Regions from separate parts of the Homo sapiens genome. Here region 2 is linked to region 1. The links come from fine-mapping of genetic effects on gene expression. A gene starts in region 1. The other region holds a variant in brackets. All regions are shown on one strand. Distances are from middle to middle.

Region 1 (11,425 bases):
GAGACAAATGTAAATTTCAAATTTTAACACTAAAAGGGTCACTTTCTAGGTTTATTCAAAAACTCAGCAGGTGAGATGGCTCACTCACACCTGTAGTCCCAGCACTTCTGGAGGCTGAGGCAGGAGGATTGCTTGAGGCCAGGAGTTTGAGATCAGCCTGGCCAACATGGCGTGACCCTGTCTCTACAAAAAAGTTTAAAACTTGTCAGGCATGCTGGCATGCATCTGTAGGATATGCAGGAAGCTAAAGTAGGAGGATCACTTGAGCCCAGGAGATGGAGGTTGAAATGAGCCAGGTTTGCACCACTGCACTCCAGCTTGGATGACAGAGCCAGACCCTGCCTCAAAAAAAACAAAATAGTAAATGCCACTTCTATGGGACAATTGGGTTGGTTTTACTAGGACCACTGCATCAGGTAGGAGAAAAAAATGAGGTTATATCTGGAAGAAAGAAAAAAATATATAGTCATTATAGCAACTTGGTAAGAATTGCATAGCCACACCAGCATTCTCCCTACCCCCACTTTCCCAGGTCAACCAGAAAACAGGAAAGTCTAGTGGTGACGCTCCTCTAGTCCCATCAGGTTGAGTGTGAGCACACAGGAGGGCATGTAAGCCAAATCTTCCTGTTTTTTTTTAAATTTTTATTTTTATGGGTACATTAAAAAAAATTATGGCTACATCCTTCATGCTTTTATCTCCCCTGTTTTTGACAACCAAAGTTTTAATTGCTCATTCCACTTCTTGATCAAATTATTACCCAAAGGACAGCTCTCTGCCCATTGCTGGACATTATGGGCTAGACAGTGTGTTCCTTGGTCGGAAGAAATGACGGCAGCCTGTGCAAATGTGTGTAATATATTCTGTTCTGATTCTTTTACAGCACTCTGAGCATTTGCATCTTCCACTGGGTAAGCAAAGGCCAGCCCAGAGTCAGCGTCTATTCCTGTCAAGACCCATTTGTAGCCCCCCAGGGCTACCAGCATCAGCCTCACTTGCCAGCTGTGCTTGGGACCTTCCCACCAGGGAATCTGGCCCATAGCCATCTGCAGCTTCTGTCTCTCCTGCTGGCAAACAGAACAGTTCTTATTGGCATTATGTGCCTGAGAGGGTGCAATAGAAACATATTTAGATTCAGCCCATCTCTGCACTGCTGCAGTGCCCTCATGTCCTCTCATTTCATGCACCCAGGTGGCCACCCAGTGAGCACACAGGGATATCTGCTTGTCGATTTCAATCACCTTCCAGACCTGGAAGAGAGCTCTTCTGGTGGGCATTGACATGTCCTACCTTAAGGACCCCTCAAATTTCCAAAGGGCTGTGTGTGTCCCATATGGACATCCCTTTAATAGGCTAGGTTTCCATTATCCACCTGCTTGACTATATGGCCAAGCCATTGGCCACTGCCTGTGAGTCAGTAAAAACCCACACGGAAGGGCTTTTACCACTGTTCAATTCTTCAGCATGCAATTCAGCTCACTGGACGGATTTGTTTTTATCTTCTTTGATCAGAATGGCATCCTTCTAAATAGAACGTGGTCTTTTCATCTTGGCACTGTCATCTGCACACCAAGCAGCTCTTTGTTGGCTAGTTGAGAGCTGTTTATAGGGCACTGTCCAAGTGGCAGTAGGATCCAGCTGCTCCCCATACGCTTCCAGAGTCAGTCCGAGGGAGAAAGAGGCTCCTTTTTTATTAGTATCTCCTCCTTGCATTCCCTAGGTAGCATGATCCTGTATAAATCATTTCTAATTTATTAGGGGACTCTTCTGGGCATTTTAATCTCCATTAGAGTGTTTTTAAACATAATCCAAGAGATTATTGGTATTTCAGGCTTCAAGATCATTTTATGTCCTCAGTCATAGGGGTAGCTTGAATTAATATCCCATAGAAAGTAGTATTATGCTCTTCAAATTGAAATTCTGTAGTCCAGAGTCTCAGTAGTTGTCACTGGAAGGTGCTTATAGGCTGTTCCCATAGGCCCCAGTCTGGGTTCCATACAGGGCTCTGTCTCAGAGAATTTGTCCATAGCATCACTCTGTCTTCTATTCTACATTTTGTGGGCTCCAGAGATCTGACTGGTTCCTATTTAGCATGTCCAATTAATATTGATTAAAGGCAGATTTACATGGCTTTTGTTTCATAATGCTAGGTATGGGAAACATTTCCCAGTCTGATACAACATCCATCCCCATAATATAATCAGGTAAAATCACTTCAGAGAAAATGTGTTCAAATATACCAACTCTCCTATAAAGGTTTATCTTAATTCCACCAACCCTCACTTTCCTAACTGTAGCCTCTATTAGAACTTTATCAATGGTTTTTGGTTTCACAATACTACAACCCTTAAATTTTTACATTCTCTCAATCTAATCCCAAGTCAGGACTTCACCAATGGATGTTGGTACCATAGTCAGTGGACCTCCCATATCAAGGAGTCCCATGAATTTCTCTTCTGCATCCCTGATCATTTTGTCCACTTGTGTACATAAGGCTTTAGGTCCCCATCAGGGCGTTGAGCAAAAGAACTCTTGCTTGTTGGTTAATCTTTATCTTGATTAAACTGCCAGACTATTGCCCCAGAAAATTTCAGATCAGATGTCTTATTTTAATCTTTGCTTTCTGACTTTTAAAATTTCTCCAAACTAAGGTAAATACAGCAAACTTTTTTGGAACCCTTTAATGTTAGGGAACCAACAAGTACTCCCTTTGGCCCACCCAACCTTAAATAGTATTATATTAAGACTTTTGTTCTAACTCCATCAATTTCTGTTTTACTCATCCCACTTCTGACACCAAATCTGAGGCTATAGGGAAGACAACCAAAGTGCTTTTTCTATTCTCTCACTTAACAATCAACACTTCTCTTTTGATTGGTGTCACCAAGAATTGTGTAGGGATTTCTCCCCACCAGCAACCAATTAATCAGTTCTGCAGTGGACACGAATTGGGTGTACTCCAATTCAATCCTCATACATCTACCTGGACTTCACAGCAGATCCCACAAGTTGAGGGCTTGGTCCCACAAGACTGTCCCCCACTTCCAATGCCAATTGTAGGCTCCAGGTTCTTTACCTGTGCTTCTGACTGACCAGCTATAAATTGGGGTTCCATAACACCTTTCTCTTCAATTAATTTTTTAGAGCAGCTCAAAGAACTTAGAAAAACACTTATGCTTACCAGTTTATTATAAAGGATATTACAAAGGATACAGGTGAAGAGACGCACAGGGTGAGGTGCAGGGGAAGGAGAATGGAGTTGCCATGCCCTCTCCAGGCATGCCACCTTCCAGGAACCTCCGTGTGTTCAACTGTCCGGAAGCCCCCTAAACCCAGTCTTTTGCGGTTTTTTAATGGAACATTCATTACATACGCATGATTGATTAAATCATTGCCCATTGGTGCTCCACTTAACTTTCACTCCCTCTCCCTTCCACAGAGGCTGGGAGATGAGCTGAAAGTCCCAACCTTTTAATCATGCCTTGTTCTTTCCTGTGACCAACCCCCATACTGAAGCTACCTGGGGCTTGCCAGTGGACGTAGCGGGGGTGTTATGAAGACCAAATATATATTTCACAGTATCACACATTTATAGCTCTTGGGATGTAAAAAATTCTCCATGTCTCTTTGTCCTCACCTGTGAAATAGGGATAAAGATAAGTGCTGCCTCAGAAGGGTGTCATGATGCTTCAAGGAGATAATATGTACAAAGTGCTTAGAAAGATCCCTACACCGAGTAAGCACTCATATTTTATCAGGCATGGGATGGGCCATTTCAGGAAGAGGGAGCTCCTGTTCTCATCCTAAGTCTGAACGGTCCGGAATTCAAAGAGGATCAATAAATGGCCTTTCACCAGGATCACAATGGATTTTGTAGAGTGGTGGGCTGGCAAGCTGATTCAGTGTTCACCATTGCTGTGGTGTAAATCCTCCCAACATGGCCAGTTTCAAGCTAATAATGGTTTAACACCTGGCTTGCACAATTTCTGAAAATTTAATAATCAGCTCTTTTGAGCCAGTGCAAGCCACCTGCAGAACACCATTAACTTTTGCATCACCCAGTTTTGTGAACGCAGGCAGGTCTCTTCCTCCCTCTGTATCTTACTTCCCTCCATCTCTCCAAACGGAGCTAAGCCATCCGACTCACTCATGCAGTACGTATTTATTTGAGTACGTACTACATGTCAGTCACTAGGTTGGGCTCTGGAAATCCAGCCTTGAACAAAAGCAGACCAAAACAAAAACAAAAAACTCCGTGAAGCTTACATTCTGGAAGTGGGAGTAGGGGGAGAGCAACTAAAAATAACAGTGAAAGAAGGAAATCGGCCGGGCGCAGTGGCTCACACCTGTAATCCCAGCACTTTAAGAGGCCGAGGCGGGCAGATCGCCTGAGATCAGGAGTTGAAGACCAGCCTGACTAGCATGGAGAAACCCCATCTCTATTAAAAATACAAAACGAGCCGACTGTGATGGTGCATGCCTGTGATCCCAGCTGCTCAGGAGGCTGAGGCAGGAGAATCACTTGAACCCAGGAGTTAGAGGTTGTGGTGAGCCAAGATCATACCATTGCACTCTAGCCTGGGCAAGAAGAGCAAAACTCTGTCAAAAAAAAAAGAAAGAAAGAAAGAAAGAAAGAAAAGAAAAGGAAAAGGCAAAAGAACATTGTTAGTGCTATGAAGAGGTATGACGTAGAGTTATTGTGCTGGGAGTAGCAGCTACTTTGGAAACTATGATCAATGAAGGCTTCTTAAAGGGGAGAAGATGAGCCTTAAATAAGAAAGAGTCATCTGCCAGTGTGGTAGGAAGAGCATTCCAGCGAAAGAACGGCAAGTACAAAGACCCTGGGGCTGGAATTGTTCGGTTTGTTTAAGGAATGGAAAGAAGGTCACAGCGAGCTGAGTGATTGAGGCAGGGAGTGGCCCTAGCTGGTCCAGGTGTTTAGTGGTGGTTGTTCTGAAGGTGGAGGCAAAGGTAGAGGCCAAGAGAGTAGAGCATAGGCTGCTACAGCCAGAGTCCTACAGGGAGAGGTGGTGAAAGCTCAGACCAGGATGGGAGAGTAAGAAAAGGACAAAGCAGAGATTTGTTTTGGAGACAGAGCCAGCGGTTCTTGCAGACAAATTGGATGTGAGTGGAGGGGGAAGGAATTGAGGATGGATATGTTTCTGAGGCAGAACAGCCCCTACTGGGTAACTTCAAAAGCTCCTGCCTTGAACTGCTACAGAAATAACGTAGACTCAGAGATTATTTTGCTCCTGCGTATGCCAAGGGGACGGGAACAGGAGGGTGGAATACACCTAGTAAACAGATGCAAAGTGGAAAGGGGAGGGAGAAACTCACTACAGGTTTTTGAGGTGCTGGCTGGAGCCAGGAGCTGCTCCAAGATCTCTCATTCTTCTCAATAACCTTGGGCAATAGGGAATTTTCCACCTTGCAGGGGAAGACGCTGAGGTTCTGGGAAGAGAAATGGCTTGTCCAAGGTCACACAGCCAAGTCAGTGAAAGAACAGGGAGCCAGGATGTTTTGCACCTAAACCCTGGATTATGGTTTCCTCCCCACCTGCTCCCCCAAGATAAGTCCCCCAATCCCTTCCCATTGCCTTATTATACTGGGGATGAGGGTTGGGGTGGAGGAAAAAAGCAAATTTCACTCCAAAAGTCAGTGTTTTCGTTATCCATGAAAATAGATGGAAAAGCTGAACTGTGGCCCACAGGAAGAGGGGCCTGGGGGCCTGGCCTCCTGGGTCTGAGGGAGGAGGGGGCTGGGGGCCTGGACTCCTGGGTCTGAGGGAGGAGGGGCTGGGGGCCTGGACTCCTGGGTCTGAGGGAGGAGGGGCTGGGGGCCTGGACTCCAGGGTCTGAGGGAGGAGGGGCTGGGGGCCTGGACTCCAGGGTCTGAGGGAGGAGGGACTGGGGACCTGGACTCCTGGGTCTGAGGGAGGAGGGGCTGGGGGCCTGGACTCCTAGGTCTGAGGGAGGAGGAACTGGGGACCTGGACTCCTGGGCCTGAGGGAGGAGGGGCTGGGGACCTGGACTCCTGGCTCTGAGGGAGGAGGGGCTGGGGGCCTGGACTCCAGGGTCTGAGGGAGGAGGAGCTGGGGGCCTGGACTCCTGGGTCTGAGGGAGGAGGGGCTGGGGGCCTGGACTCCTGGGTCTGAGGGACGAGGGGCTGGGGGCCTGGGCTCCAGGGTCTGAGGGAGGAGGGGCTGGGGGCCTGGACTCCTGGGTCTGAGGGAGGAGGGGCTGGGGGCCTGGACTCCTGGGTCTGAGGGAGGAGGGGCTGGGGGCCTGGGCTCCAGGGTCTGAGGGAGGAGGGGCTGGGGGCCTGGACTCCTGGGTCTGAGGGAGGAGGGGCTGGGGGCCTGGACTCCTGGGTCTGAGGGAGGAGGGGCTGGGGGCCTGGGCTCCAGGGTCTGAGGGAGGAGGGGCTGGGGGCCTGGACTCCTGGGTCTGAGGGAGGAGGGGCTGGGGGCCTGGGCTCCAGGGTCTGAGAGAGGAGGGGCTGGGCCTGGACTCCTGGGTCTGAGGGAGGAGGGGCTGGGGGCCTGGACTCCTGGGCTGAGGGAGGAGGGGCTGGGGGCCTGGACTCCTGGGTCTGAGGGAGGAGGGGCTGGGGGCCTGGACTCCTGGGTCTGAGGGAGGAGGGGCTGGGGGCCTGGACTCCAGGGTCTGAGGGAGGAGGGGCTGGGGACCTGGGCTCCTGGGTCTGAGAGAGGAGGGACTGGGGCTAGTCTCCTAGGTCCATGGGAGGATGAGATTGGGACTTGAAGGAGGAGGGAGCTGGGTTTTAGGAAGTATCCCAGACTCCGTGTTCTGCGGATGTGGTGGAAAGACGTGGGGACGCCTGGGGCGGGAGGGGTAGGGGCCGGGCCGCAGTAACAAAGGCCTCTCCCTCCAACAAGCAACCCCCCCTTGACCCCGCCTCCCCGGCCCCCCACCTCTCCTGATTGGCCGGTCTCCCTGCCCGTCAGCGCCGCCCCCCTCCCCGGGTCTGCAGCAGCTCCAGCCGCCTCGTCGCGCCCCCCCAGCCCCCTCCCCCCGCCCCCGCCGCCCCCCGGGCCGGTGCAGCGCAGGCGGGGTCCCCCTCCCCCTCCCCCCTCTCCCCCCAGGCCTCGCGCGCCCCGGACCGGCCCCCCCTTTCCCCTCCCCCTCCGCGCCGCCTCTGCCGCGATGCCCCCCCCTGCGCCCGGGGCCCGGCTCCGGCTTCTCGCCGCCGCCGCCCTGGCCGGCTTGGCCGTCATCAGCCGAGGTACCGCAGCGCCGGGGGCGGGGGGCTCGGCCGGGACGCCAGGGTCTTGGGTGGGTAATCGGGGGATCAGGGGTGGGGGTCGAGGGCTGCATCCCTGGGCCGGCGCGGGGAGGCCCCGGGACGCCGGGGTCTGGGCCCGGGGGTGGGGTCTGCATTCCCTGGCTGGGCAGGGGGACCTCGGACGTGGGGGTCCGCGCCCCGGGGCAGGGGTCGGCGTCCTCGGGCCGGAGCCGGGTCTAGGGGCGGAGGTCTGCTTCCCCGAGCAGGCAAGAGGGTCGCAGACACCTAGCCCTGCCTGGGGGCAGGAGTCTGCGGCTCCTGTTGAGGAGGGGGCAGACACTGGACTCGGGGTCCCCGGGTCGGATCTCCGAACTGAGTTGGGGTGGGGGGCAGGGGATAATGCCCTGTTAGGGGTCTTCATCTGTACGTGGAGAGGGTCCCTGAAGAGGTCCTTGCCGGGGGCTGGGGTAGTCATCTCGGGACAGAGGTCAGGGGATGGATGCCTTCCCAGGGTCAGTAAGAGGAGGGGACAAGGGTGTCCACAGACCTAGTCCCAGGGTCAGGAAAAGAGGGGAAGGGTCTGAAATCCCCCAGCAGGGTCATCTAGGTTGAGAGAAAGTGTTGGTACTTGGGGAGGTTGCAGTTATGTGGGGGAGAAGGGAGCTGGAGATACAGGAAGTTGGGGTGCTGGGCTGGGGTCTTGGATTCCCAAGCTCTGATTGAATGTCTAGGTTCGTGGGGCTGGACAGTGGAAGAGCGATGGGCATGGGAGGATGAAGGAAAGACGGAAGGGAAGGGTTAAAGCAGGTTGAAGGGTTAACCCCGGCCCGGCCCGGCCCTCCCAGTTGGGGAGAGGGCCAGGGGCAGGTTTCTGCACTGAGGTTAGATAGCTGGACCTTGAGTCTCCCCAGTAGGGCCTGGCAGGCAGGGGGTGGTCAAGGAGATTCCTAGATTTCCCCCTAAGAAAAGGGAGGAGAGTGCAAGGAGGCAGGAGGCTGGAGGGTGGGCGCTCAGGAGGGCAGGGAGCTGGGTTAATTCAGACTTTCTGGAGGATTCCCCCAGGCCCTCCCCTGAACAAAGAGTTCCAGGGACAACCAAGAACCCCGACAGAGTCCCCAAGAGTCTCAGAGAGGCCGCCCGCATAGACCAAGTCTGGCACAGAAACCCCGTCACAGCGTCCCACCCGAAGCAGCACCTGCAGACACCAGTCACACAAACACAGCCCCATCCACGCAGGACGCAGGGACCTGGTGGGCCACAGCCTCAGTCCCTTGCTAGTCCTCCCCCGTCTCCCACCTGACCAGTCTGAATCGCCCTCTGACTTTCTGACCACCTGTCTCTGTCTCTGTCATGCATCTCTTTAGGTCTTTGTGTCCCTGCCATTTCTGGAGGTTCCCATCCCTTCCCATCTCTGTTATCCACTGCTGACTTTCCACCTGCCTCTGTCTCTGGGTCATTGTCTCTCCATCCCTGCTGCTGACAGCACAGTTCCACATCTGTCTGTCTCTGCTTTTCAGACTGTTGCCCATTGCATGACTCAGTCTCTTGATACTTGCTTGCTTCCTCACTTATGCCTTAATCTTCATTAACTTCTCTCATTTCCTTCTCTCATTCATTTCCTTCTTGTTCTGACCTACCTTTCTCTTTTTTCTTTCTCTTTCCTTCTTTCTCTTTCCTTCTTTCTTTCTTTCCTTCTTTCTCTTTTTCTCTCTCTCTCTCTTTTTCTTTCTTTCTTTCTTTCTTTCTTTCTTTCTTTCTTTCTTTCTTTCTTCTTTCTTCTCTTTTTTTCTTTCTTTTTCTTGTTTTTTTGAGACAGGGTCTGACTTTCTCACCTAGGCTGGAGTGGAGTGGTGCAAGCATACACAGCTCACTGCAGCCTCAATTTCCCTGCCTCAAGCGATCCTGCCACCTCAGCCTCTGGAGTAGCTGGGACCACAGATGCACGCCACCACACCTGGCTAATTTTTAATTTTTTTTCTTTGTAGAGATGGGGGTCTCACTATATTGCCCAGACTAGTCTCAAATTCCTGGCCTCAAGTGATCCTCCCACCTGGGCCTCTCAAAGTGCTGAGATTACAGGTGTGAGCCACTGCACCAGCCACCTCTTCTTTCTTTCTCTCCTTGTCCTTATCTCTTGTCTTCTTCTTCCTCCTCTTCTTTCCCTGATCCTGTACCCTTTGTGACCTTTCCCCCACTTTCCTGTTTCTTCTCTCCCTCCCCTTCTCTCTCTCACTGCAACTTCCCATTTTTCACATTCACTATTTTTTTTTTTTTTGAGGCAGAGTTTTACTCTTGCTGCCAGGCTGGAGTGTAGTGGCATAATCTCAGCTCACTGCAACCTCTGCCTCCCGGGTTCAAGTGATTCTCCTGCCTCAGCCTCGCAAGTAGCTGGGACTACAGGTGTGTGCCACCACGCTGGGCTAATTTTTGTACTTTTAGTAGATACAGGGTTTCACCATGTTGGCCAGGCTGGTTTCGAACTCCTGACCTCAGGTGATCTGCCCACCTCAGCCTCCCAAAGTGCTGGGATTACAGGCATGAGCCACTGTCTGGCCCCCACATTCATTCTTAAAGTCCCTATAAATCATTACGGGGCTAGACTGGGGCAGGAAGCTGTGGCAGAGCCAGGAGGTGGCTTGTGACCCTGCTCAAGTCTTTTCCCATCTCTGGTCTTAGGTTCCCCTTTTGAGAACTGGGGACGAGAGGGGATGGGGTGGGGTTGAGACAGAACGAGATGCCAGAAAGACACCCCCACCCACCCATGGATAGTTTGAGCTGTCTGGGAAAAAAAGCTTATGGCAAGATATGCAAACTAGCATCTTCTCTCTTCTTTTATTCATGATCTTGTCCAAGTTACAAGAGGAATACACTGCAAACAGTCCGCCTCTGATAAGGGCAAACCCCATTGTGCTCCTGCCCTGCCACCACTCTCACAACCACTGTCTTGAGAGAACCGGTCTGTGGCTGGAGTGCATCCTTCCATAGCTTTCTCTCACTTCTGCAGACTTAGACACGACACACAGAGGACAACATAAGTGATGGATTGGTTGGTTTGTTGATTTTTTTCCCCCAAAATAGAAACAAAATAAGCCCATTTCTCTGCAATCGGCCTTTTCCCACTTAACCATACCTCCCTTACATCCATAAATATTCATCTATCTTCAATTCTTTTCTAAATCTTTTATGCCAACACACACGCACCCCCTCACATATACATATTTATTTACAAAGCAGCTACATTGTGGTATTTTAAAACAATTCAACAAAATCAAATGGCCGCTTCTGCAGCAGCAAATGAGGTGGGTGGTTCCTTTGCTTCTGGGGCAGCTAGCAGAGTGATGATGGTCAGGAGGGGGCAGGAGCCCCAGATTTGAGTCCCAGCACTGCCCCTGACAAGCTAGCTCTCCCCAGGACCTCTGAGCTCCAGGTTCATCTGGCTTGTGGGCTGTGCTTGGTTGTTGGTTCATATAGCAAATGTTCTTGGGGACCAGGGCCGCTATTCTAGACACTGGATATATACATATGGCAGTGAGTGAACCAGGCAGTCACTGTCCTCACGGAGCTTAGATCATAGTGGGATGGAGAGAGATCAAAGACCAAAACCAAAACCTAAAGACAAACAAATAAAAGATAATTTCAGAGAGTGATGAGTAATGTAAAGAAGATAAAAGTGACTTGGCCTTTGAAGCTCAAGTGGTTGAGGAAACCATCTCTGAGCAGGGGAGAGTGGAGTTAAGACCTGAAGGAAGAGGGAAGTCAACCTTTTTTTTTTTTTTTTTTTTTTTTTGAGACAGAGTCTTGCTCTGTCGCCCAGGCTGGAGTGCAGTGGCACTATCTCAGCTCACTGCAAGCTCCGCCTCCTGGGTTCACACCATTCTCCTGCCTCAGCCTCCCAAGTAGCTGGGACTACAGGCGCCCACCACCACGCCTGGCTAATTTTTTGTATTTTTAGTAGAGATGGGTTTCACTGTGTTAGCCAGGATGGTCTCGATCTCCTGACCTCATGATCCGCCCGTCTTGGCCTCCCAAAGTGCTGGGATTACAGGCGTGAGCCACCACGCCCCGCCGGAAGTCAACCTTTCAAAGTTGACAGCAGAGGTAAAGACCTTGAGGTGGGACCAACAGAAAGGAGGGTAAAGCTGGGCGCAGTGGCTCACACCTGTAATCCCAGCACTTCAGG
Region 2 (11,315 bases), 40 kb before region 1:
TCCAGCATTCTTACACAGAAGATGCCATAGTACATTTGGCTTCCAGTGAATGTTCCACCAAAGACCACTTGAGACCGGGAAGAAGGAAATTAAGAAAGGTGTTCTGTTTATTGAATGGGTAATACTTCACTACGCACTGAGCTGGGTGCACTGCAAATCTTGGGGCATTCATTCTTATAACGATGATAATATGAGATAGGTTCAGCAAATATCCCGATTTTCCAGGCTAGGAAACAGCAATGATAAGGGGAGTGACTTGCCCAGCAGCACCCAGACAGGAAGTGATGGAGGGAGAATTGGTCATAGAGCCTAAGAGGAACATTGCAGGTGGGAAGAAGAGAAGCAGAGTAGGAGGTCTGGCTTGGACTTCTAGCCTTGCAGGGTAGGTGAGGGATCACAGACAATGTAGAGCCTCAGGAAATTTACTTGCCACCCCTCAAGAAGGTCTAGCGATCAGGTTCAGGCCAGATGAGGACAGAAGATAGAGGGGAACTGGTCTGGGAGGCCTGAATCCTGTGGGCTTCCAGAAAGTCCTTCTGAAGCTCCTTGTGAATAGCAAGTAAAGAGAAGGCTGCATGCTGGAGAAACTGGAAGAGGGAAGCCAGGATGCCTTGCTGACTCCTGACCCTTCCTCCCCACAGTACCTGCTAAGCTGCTCAACTCCTCTTGCTCCTTGGAGAAGACACTGCAGTGCAGCTGTTCCTTCCATGGGATTCCCACACCCTCTGTGCAGTGGTGGATGGGAGGAGTCCCCGTGGGTGTGGATGGCATGGATGGCAGCCTCCAAGTGACTTCCACCATGCTTGGCCCCTGGGCTAACAGCACCATCAGCCTAACTGAAGAGCCAGAAATGGGCATGAGACTTCTCTGTGAGGGGAAGAACCAAAACGGAACCCATGCTTTGAGCATCCTACTGATGTCAAGTGAGGGTGGAGGGGGCTCGGTGACTGGGTGAGGACAATAAGCGGGATGGGGACAGTCACTGGGGCTAGAGAATGGAGCAGAGTTTTGGCTCCGATGCCAAACTTCTCACATGCTCTCTGCTTCCAGGAAAGAGTTCTTTGGCTGCCCAGGCCTTCGTGAAAGGGCTGATCCAGGGTGCTATCTATGCGGGAATTGTAATTGCGCTGCTCTTCCTCTGCCTCCTCCCTCTCATGTGAGTACTAGGGTTAATATTCACCCGCAAGCCTACTACCGGGCAGGCCCTGGCTGCAGCCCTGGCACAGAGAGAGCAAAGACAGGACCCCTCCCCTCAAGGAGCTTAGGGTCTAAAGAGGGAAAGATGTACCAAACATGGTCACCACAATCCAGGGCCATGAGGACTATACAGAACCGTAAAACTGTGTCATAAAACAGACACTTTGAACACATTTTATAAAGGAGAAGACCAAGAAGGGACTTGGCAGCCCTGGAAAAGGCAGCAGCGAGTCCCCGGGGTGCTGTCTGTGGTGGGCCTGCAAGGGTTCAGTACTCGTTAGCTTGGTGGAAAGTATTAATAGTACAGGTTGAGTATCTAATCCAAAAATCCAAAATCCGAAATGCTCCAAAGTCCAAAAGTTCTCGAGGCACCGACATAATGCCACAAGTAGAAAATTCCACACCTGACCTCATGTGATAGTTCAATGCACACAAACTTTATTTCATGCACAAAATAATTTTAAATATTATATAAAATTACCTTCAGGCCATGTGTATAAGGTATATATGAAACATAAATGAATTTTGTTTTTATACTTGGCTCCTATCCCCAAGATATGTCATTATGTATAAACAAATATTCCAAAATCTAAAAAAAAAAAAAAAAATTGAAATCTGAAACACTTCTGGCCCCAGGCATTTCAGATAAGGGATATCTAACCTTTGTATGCAGACGCCCAGAGGCATGTTTGAGGCATTTCCAGTGTCTTTGTATAATGTCAGGTGCATTGAGAGTACCAGGTAATGGCTAAAAATGAGGTTGAAAGACATCCTTGGTGTTGGTTCACAGGGTGTTAAAACTTAGCTGCATGTATTAGCTAGAAGCATGGAGTGGGAAGGGGTGAGTTGCAGGAAGTCAGGCCAGAGAGACGGGCAGGGGAGCCTGTCCAGACAGCTTGGACTGAATCCTCATTTCGGAGCCATGGAAGAGTGCTAAGCTGTGAAGGAAAGCTTGAGCTTGGGGTGGGACACAGATTAGAGAGAGTGAGAGCCAGAAGGTCAGAGGCCAGGCAGGAAGCTGGTGCAGGGGACTAAGCAGGAAATAGAAGGCCTGACCTGGGGCAAGTGATGAGGGGCAGCCAGAGAGGTGGGACTTGGGCATGGCTGGCTATGGGGAGACAAAGATGAGGAGTGAGGTGTCAGGGCAAACTGAGGAGCTATTTTCAAAGTATAATCAACAGGACTTGAAGACCAGTAACAATCTCTCTGCCAGTTGCAAGGCCCTTTCTTAGCTGACCTCATCTGAGCCCCACAGCCTAATAAGCAGGGTATCCCCCTTATTCAGAGTGTGAAACTAATTCCCAGAGAGGATGTGTGGCTTGCCCTAGGTCATACAGCAAGCTGGTACTGTTGTTGAGGCTCTAAATCAGAAGTTCTGGTCAAGATAGAGCCCATTTGGGGATTCAGGGAGATGGAGAGCCAGAACCAATCCAAGGCTTATTTCCTTAGAGTGAAACATATCAGAAAGAAGCAGGCGAAGAAAGCTGCAGCGATCAGAGCAAAAAAGAGCTCTAAAGTCAGAGCAAGCCAAGAACTTGAGATGTCTCTGAAGCCTGAGGAACCAGGAAAACCCGTAGTCGCCACATTTTCTGAGAGCCGGATATTGGTATGTACCTATTGTGTCTGGAATCTAGTCTATCGGAATACTGATAATAAGACCCACAGGGAAAGGAGCACACAGTGTTTTGAAGGTGTTATCATCCTCAGTCTTGCAGGATACCTAATGCTAGAGTGTGCTTTCAGGTCATTTTATAAATAGGAAGCTAAGGCCCAGAGAGGAGAAGGATGAAAGTTAAGAGAAACAATTTAAAGAACAATTAAAATCAATTTACACGCACACACCATTACATTGAATCCCCACTGAAAAGGCAGTTGGGGAAAATCCTAATAGCAGTTGTAGCATCAGAGTGGAAACCAAGGATTTGGCCTCTGAGTGTATGGCCGGCAGCAGTCAGCTTGGTGTAGATGCCACAGGCCAAGTCAGCCTGAAGTGGTTAGAGATTAGGCCAAGCCCAGGTTACTCCTTCATTCACCCTGTACCCCACATCTTCAGCAGGGCTTGGAAGATACAGTGTCCGAGGTTGCTA[T/C]GCCTCACTGTTATTTACCGTTTATGATTCTCCAGAATCAGAATTATCCTGCTGCCCTCCTAACACCCTGCATGAACAGTTGGTGTCCTTTTGTAGATAAGCCATCTGTTAAATTCCACCAATATTTCCTGCAATATCTCCTAATCTTTGTGCTCGACAATGCTGGGGTCTCAGAAATGGGCCAAACCTAGGCCTTGTCCTCAGAGAGCAACTAGACTGGTCGAGAAGGCACCTTCACAGTAGGGGATGCTGAGCCAGGAGTTACGGTGGTGCAGAAGAGGGAGGGACCAAACCTACCTGAGGAAGTCAGGCAAGATTCCCTGAGGAGTCTAAGGAACAGTCAGTGTTATGGGTACTGAAGATGCACAGAGAGGACCAGATGGAGAAGACCGAGTTGCAGGCTTTAACCATGGGGTTGTGAGGAAGGGCTAAGCCAGTGCTCACTCCATGTTGCCTTAATTCTGTGCACAAGGGGGTGTCTTTTTAAGATTTGGATACCTCACCTCTAGACCTGTTCCAACATTCTTTTTTCTTTGTTCTATTTTGCACCTCGCTTTCAGGAAAAGCAAGATAAACGAGCCAGCTAAGCCTGTGGAACATGCCTCATACCTGGAGTCGCCATTATCCCTGGAATTACAAAGATCTGCAAAATTTATAGCGCTCACAGAAACCCTGGAGGCTGTAATAAACCTGGAGCCCCCTGGACTCTCCTCAGCTCACAAAACCCTCTCAATTCCTACACATCCCTTAACACTCATTCTCCATTGAATAGGTGGTTACTCTTAGACCTAGTCTTAGAACCTCTGAAGACACACTTTGTAATTTGTTGTTTGGCTAAATGAGAAGAAATCTGTGCCACCCTGGGAAGGTGTCAAAAGAAGGAAAAATACATGTGACAATATGAATCAAGTCCATCAGCAAGTTACTTTTGAGCGCCTACTGTGTGTCAGTGCCTGAGATACACCTACAAGAGCGCCAGGCTTTCAAGCCTTCATATCTGGATAGAATCCCAACTTCAGTGCTTGGTGGCTGTCTATCTTTGGACAAGATCTTTCATTCCCCATCCTTTGAACATCACATGACCCATATCTGGGTGGAGAATGGGTGAAAAGTACTGTTCAGAGATGCAGGTGAGAAAAAACATGACGATGGGCCCTGAATGCCAAGATTCATTGGAGCTTTGGAGCTTTATCTTGTAGGACCTTATCCTGACTCCCTTAGAATGTAAGTTCCAAGAGAACAGGGACTTTGTCTGCCTTGTTTTCTACTTTTATCACCAGCACCCAGAATGATGCCTAAAATACAATAAGATCTCAAGAATGTTTGTCAAATGATTTAATTAATTATAAGCTGTTTTAAGGTTTGAAGCAAGCAAGTAGAGTGACCAGATATAGACAGAAAAATCATTTCCGTACCCTGACCCCACATATGATATATTTAGAATGGGTAAGGCTGGAGGTAAAGATGCTAGTTAGGAGGTTATCGCAATAGTTCTTGGCCAGATTGAAAGGCAGGCATGCAAGGAATGGGAAAGGGATTCTGGCATTAGAATGAACCACAACTATGTATTGTTCCTCTCAGAATGGATGACAACCTCCTTTCTAGCCAGATGCTAGTAGATTTTTTTTTTTTTTGAGATGGAGTTTTGCTCTTGTTGCCCAAGCTGGAGTACAATGGTGCAATCTCGGCTCACTGCAACCTCTGCCTCCCGGGTTCAAGTGATTCTCCTGCCTCAGCCTCCCGAGTAGCTGGGATTACAGGCACACACCATCACACCCAGCTAATTTTTTATAGTTTTAGTAGAGACAGGGTTTCACCATGTTGGCCAGGCTGGTCTCAAACTCCTGACCTCAGGTGATCCACCTACCCCGGCCGCCCAAAGTACTGGGATTACAGGAGTGAGCCACCGTGCCTGGCCAGATGCTAGTAGTTTTCAGTAGGTGGAAAGAGGGTCATCTCTTCCCTGGGGCAATATTTGTGGGTAAATACAGTGATCCTGTAGCACCAGCTAGATGGTCATCTTATACTCAGGGTGGACGTTTACGTTAGCCCCCACATGTATAAGCACCTCTCACAGGCAGTTCACATTTCACAGAAATATCAGATGTGCCACCATGTGCCAGATAATGAGGGGAAGAAGTAAGACACTCACCCTGCCTCCGTGGAGTCATGGTCTACATAGACAGACGATGAAGAAATGCAGACGAATTTATAGCTTAAAATGTTGATAAGTGCTAGAAAGAAAACAGGACAGAATACTATGAGAAAGCACAGGAAAGGAAGCTAGGTTGGATTACAGAGTCAGAGAAGGCCTCTCAGAGAAAGTGACACTTGCCTTGAGACCTATAGGATTATTAGGAGCTGGCTAGACAGAGGGAGCAGTAGATCCTAAGCTCTGACATGAGAACAGTTTGGTGAGTTCAGGAGCCCAGAGCAGGCCGCTGTGACTGGAATTGACTGAGGGATGAGCTCCTGAAGGGCCAGAACTTGCAGGCCTTCCAGGGCTCTAGTGGGAAGTTTAGGTTTTGTCCTCACTTATGGAGGGTTATTTCCTCTTATGCTTTGTAATTCTGGAAAGTGCAGATTGTTTGAGAATCACATCCAGTGGAGCTGTGTGAGAATCCTGGGCAGCAGAGGTTTTGAGTTGAGGATAGAAGCCTCTATGTAACAGGTTTGGTGTTTGCTTCTACTAAAGATACATCCTCTGTTTGGGAGGGAGAGGCAGACAAGGCTGGGGAGAGGGAGAGTGCCAGTGTTGGGAAAGAAGAGAAAAAAATGTAGAAAAGGAATAGGAGAGAGGATAGGGATCGGGTTGGAGATAGGTCAGAGATGGGTTTGGGAATGGGAATAGAGAGGCTGGGCTTCATCGTGTGTCTTGTTTTCTCGGTGATAGGGGCCTCGCGTGCAGGACAGGAAACAATGAGTACACAGGGTGCCTTCTGACCAGCCCTGGGGTCCAGCACTAGTCATTTTGTGCCTTAGTTAATGCCTTGACTTCCCGCACATACCAGGTTGAGAGAGGAACGTCCCTTAGCAACTGATTGGCCTGGAGTCTAGAGGACTGGTGGGGGTCTGGAACCAGCTGCCCAAGGAAAACGATTCTCCCAATGTCCGGGGGACGCAGTAGCAACTGTTGCTTCTGACTAGCTCAGGCTCTGGAGACCCGCGCGCTCTCTTATGCGGCTGCGCATCCCAGCAGCTCCCGCGAGAAGGGTCAGGCCCTGATTGGCTCTGGACAAACCCGCGCGAGCTTGCGGGGCGGGGCTTCAAGGGATTGGTATCCCCGTGCAAGGAGGTTGGCGAGGCCTCAGGGGACTCCCAGTTCAGCGAATCCGTTAGCCTTCCTCTGCCTTAGTCACTTCCCCGTGAGGCACTCCGTGTTTGTGTACACGGTTATTCCACGTGTCAGTCAGTTCATCGGGCGCATCCGGAGTCATTGAAAACAGTAATAGGAAGTCAAACAAACCCGCTTGATGCAAAAATTCAGGAGGACATTCGGTTTTTAAGGAAATAGTGCTGAGGAAGGACCAGGCTGGAGCTCCTTGGACCCTGAGACTGGGAGGTAAATATGGAAAAAGAAGTGATAATTTAGGGGGAGGGAAAAGAGATCACCTGTGAAGAAAACTCACGCACACACCAGGGCCTGGAGAAGGAAGTGAGACTGGAAAGAGATCAGAATTTTATTTTTATTTCATTATTTTATTCATCTATTTAATTTGAGACAGTGTCTTGCTCTGTCACCCAGGCTGGAGTTCAGTGGCACAATCTCAGCTCACTGCAGCCTCGACCTCCCAGGCTCAAGCAGTCCTCCCACCTCAGCTTCCAGAGTAGCTGCACCCACAATGCCGGGCTAATTTTTTAAATTGTTTTGTAGAGACAGGGTGTCGCTGTGTTGCCCAGGCTGGTCTCAAACTTCTGGGCTCAAGCGATCCTCCCACCTCAGCCTCCCAAAGTGCTGGGATTACAGATGTGAGAGATCAGAGTTTTTGAATCTGAAGGACCCTTACATAGTCTGCAGTAACCCTCCCATTCTACCGAGGAGGAAAAAGAGGGGGAAGCAGAAAGGGGACAGAACTTGCCCAGAGCTATCCAACGAGTTACTGGCAAAGCCCCAGTTGGAACCAGCCCAGAGCTCTTCCCAACCTTTGATTCGAGGTTGTAAATTAAAGGAGGAGGAGGAAGGATTTTGATAGTGAAAAAAAAGCAAAAGTGGGTTATGATGCAGAGATAGGATTTGTTATCTGGAAGCCTGAGTAGCATCTTGATGTAAGGAGGGAGTCGTTTTTTTAAGAGAGGCAGCGATCAGAATGGAAAAGCAGAGGGCTGGTTCTTGAATCAAAACATCACTGAGAAAAGAGATGAGTCAAGAGCGGTCACAAATTAAATGCTGAGGGAACCAGGCAGGTGATGTGAATGATAAACAGTTGCCTAGCACTTATTTTGTGCTGGCCTCTGTTCTGAGGGTTTTACATGCATTCATTCATTTAATCATTTAATGCTCCCAACAATTCTGTCAGATGAATCCTGTTAAAATCTACATGTTATAAGTGAGGAAACGGGAAACCCAGAGAGGGGAAGTAATTTGCCCACAGTCACACAGCTGGCAAATGGTGGCGCCAGACTTAAACTCAGGCAGGCTGACTCAGCACACGGTCTTAACCACTGTGTTATATGCCCCTCCCAGGTGAGTGCAGCAGGGAGAGCAGGGGCAGCAATGGACTGGAGAACAATTGTCCAATATTAAAGGGGAAAGTTAATATCTGCCATGTGTTGTCAGATCTAATTTATTAAAAAGTAGCTGGGAGTTCAGACTTTTATGTGAGGATCCTGATTTTTAAACATTGCAACTAATGAAAGAAAGTCTGTATGCAGTTTTCTTAATGCAGGCTAAATAAAACCCCCTGCATTTTAACTACCTCACAAAGCCACTAATTTGCAAACTCTAGACTATCTTAAATGAGGAAGCAGTTCCCTAGTGAGGGAAGGGCCTGGCCCAGAAAAACCTAGAAAATGGGAGGCAAAGACCAAGCCTTTGGACTGCTGGCCGTCCACTCACAGAAGAATCTAGAACCCTTCCTTTGAACTGGCTTCACATCCAAGTTGTATGGGTTTCCTGTTGCTTTCATAAGAATTACCACAACTTGGCCGGGCGCGGTGGCTCACGCCTGTAATCCCAGCACTTTGGGAGGCCGAGGCGGGCGGATCACGAGGTCAGGAGATCGAGACCATCCCGGCTAAAAACGGTGAAACCCCGTCTCTACTAAAAATACAAAAAATTAGCCGGGCGTAGTGGCGGGCGCCTGTAGTCCCAGCTACTTGGGAGGCTGAGGCAGGAGAATGGCGTGAACCCGGGAGGCGGAGCTTGCAGTGAGCCGAGATCCCGCCACTGCACTCCAGCCTGGGCGACAGAGCGAGACTCCGTCTCAAAAAAAAAAAAAAGAATTACCACAACTTTAGCAGCTTTTTTGTTGTTTGTTTTGAGACCAAGTCTCACTGTGTCACCCAGACTGGAGTGCAGTGGTGCAATCTCGGCTCGCTGCAACCTCTGTCTCCTGGGTTCAAGCTATTCTCATTCCTCAGCCTCCCAAGTACCACCACACCTGGATAATTTTCTAAAAATATTTTTAGTAGAGACAGGGTTTTGCCATGTTGCCCAGGCTGGCCTGGAACTCCTGGCCTCATGTGATCCACCTGCCTTGGCCTTCCAAAGTGCTGGGATTATAGGCATGAGCCACTGGGCCCAGCCCAATTTTAGCAGCTTTTAAAGTAACACTCATGTATGATCTCACAGAAGGTCAAAAGTTCTGGTGTGGCGTGGTTCCCCTGGTTTTCTGCTCCAGCTTTCACAAGGCCTGAATCACAGTGTTGGCAGGGCTATGTTGCTTTCTCGAGTCCCTTTGGATGAACCCATTTCCAAACACATTCAGAATCAGTTCCATGCTTTGTAGTAGTGAGGTCTGCATTCCCTTGCTAGCTGTCTGCTGGGGTCATTGTCAGCTTCTAGGAGCTGCCCTCATGGGCTCGTGGGTTCGTTCCTTCATCTTCAAAGCAAACAATGGTGAGTCAAATCCTTCGTATGCTTCACATCTCTCTGACCTCCACTTCTGGCTCATGTATGCCCTTTCTTTCTCCTGAATCTCTCTGACTTTTCTGCTTTGCAAGTTTCACGTGATTACATTACATTCACTCAGATAGTGCAGGATGATCTCCTCAATTTAAGATCAGCAGATTAGTCACCTTCACTCTATCAGCAAAGTCCCTTCACTCAGTCAGCAAAGTCCCTTCACTGAAGCACGTAGATTAATGTTTAATTGAATAACCAGGGCACAGGAATCTTGGAATGGGAGACATCTTTAGAATTTTGCCTACCACACAAGTCGAGGGGGAAGACATTTGTAACTCATATGGTGCAAAACTATATGCTTTTCCCACTGTCTTTCTCAAACCTTGTGAGGTGGACAGGACAGTTTGATTTATTCCCATATTTTATACATGAAGCATGGGACTCAGAGAGGAGAAGAGGCTTCAACCGTGATGACACAGCAGTTCTGAAGGCAGCCTGGCATACCGGAAAGAACACTGGGTTCGGAGTCCAGGGACCTACATTATGACTTCAGGATGTCCATTTCTTGGCCCTGTGAACCTGACTAGTTCCTATGCTGTTCTGGGCCTCAGTTTCCTTATCTGCGAAGTGATGCATTGAGAACTACATCACAGTGCTGTTGTGAGATTGAGAATGATAAAGTATGTGAATCTCCAGTGCACAGCACATGGGCCACCATGATTGTTCGGTATTATTTATTTATTTATTTTAAGGTATCTGCAGAGCCACAGCTAGAACCCAGATTTATTTATTTATTTATTTATCTCTCTCTCTTTCTCTCCCTTTCTCTCTCTCTCTCTCTGTCTGTCTCCCAGGCTGGAATGCAGTGGCACAATCTCTGCTCACTGCAGCCTCTGCCTCCTGGGTTCAAGTGATTCTCATAACTCAGCCTCCTGAGCAGTTGGGACTACAGGCGCATGCCACCACGCCTGGCTAATTTTTGCTTTTTAAGTAGAGAAGGGATTTTGCCATGTTGGCTAGGCTGGTCTCGAACTCCTGGCCTCAAGTGAGCTGCCCGCCTTGGCCTCCCAAAGTGCTGGGATTACAGGTGTGAGTCCCCGCGCCTTGCCAAAACCCCAAATTTCTTGGTTCCAAATCTTCTTTCATTTGATAAAGCTTTATTATGCACCAGCTGTGTTCCAGATTGTGTGTTGGGTACTAGAGACACAAAAGTGACTCAGACTTGACTTTGAAAGGTGGACTCCATTATGTCACATAAAGGTACCTTGGGCATGACACACAAAGGCCACCCAGAAGTGGTACACAAAGGTGATTCCAACATGACACACAAAAGATATTTGGACATGACTAATTTTCTCAAGGAACTCACATTCTGGTCAGAATAGATACAGAGTTACTTCCCTGCGTACTGTGAAGGGGCAGAAGCTGACCAAGGAGAGAAAGAGAAACAGAGGGGAAGTAGGGTTAGGTAGTATTTCTAGCAGTCTGCCAAAATCTGTCAAATTTTGGAGTTTATTTTGACAGTAAAGTGAAGCCAACAGATGGTAACGAACAGGGAACTGACATGATTGATTTATAATTTAAAAGGATGCCATGCAGATGTGGAAATGTGAAGGGGCAATGGTGGAAATATCACTGGAACAATGGAGTAATGGAAATTCCACTGTCCTTCCTCAGCTGCAGAGCCCCCTGCAGAGTCTCCTTGTCATCTTCCTCCAAAAGTTTTCTAGGAGTCCCCAAGGAGTCTCCTATGTCTTCACAAACAGGCCCCATTCATCTGGTACCTGCAAGCATGGAAGCTTTACTTTTTTTTTATGGTGGGGATGGAGTCTTGCTCTGTCACCCAGGCTGGAGCGCAGTGGCGCGATCTTGGCTCACTGCAACCTCTGCCTCCCCAGTTCAAGCAATTCTCCCACCTCAGCCTCCCGAGTAACTGGGACTACAGGCATGTGCCATCACACCTGGCT

Evidence for each region.
Region 2: its variant is fine-mapped to the expression of IGLON5 in cerebellum (GTEx, PIP 0.97).

Annotation. Positions count from the first base shown.
Region 1 is chr19:51,304,682-51,316,106 of GRCh38, forward strand. IGLON5 (IgLON family member 5) reads left to right here and starts at 6,963. Exons shown (of 8, transcript NM_001101372.3): 1 at 6,963-7,245. The coding sequence starts at 7,167.
Region 2 is chr19:51,264,727-51,276,041 of GRCh38, forward strand. It overlaps SIGLECL1 (SIGLEC family like 1), which reads left to right. Exons shown (of 6, transcript NM_001385465.1): 3 at 642-923; 4 at 1,051-1,156; 5 at 2,647-2,803; 6 at 3,845-4,604. The coding sequence ends at 3,871. LINC01872 (long intergenic non-protein coding RNA 1872) reads left to right here and starts at 6,540. Exons shown (of 3, transcript NR_136526.1): 1 at 6,540-6,846. It overlaps LOC107985327 (a long non-coding RNA gene), which reads right to left and starts at 6,441. Exons shown (of 4, transcript XR_007067309.1): 1 at 6,293-6,441; 2 at 5,437-5,518. The variant T/C (reference allele first, on the strand shown) is at 3,285.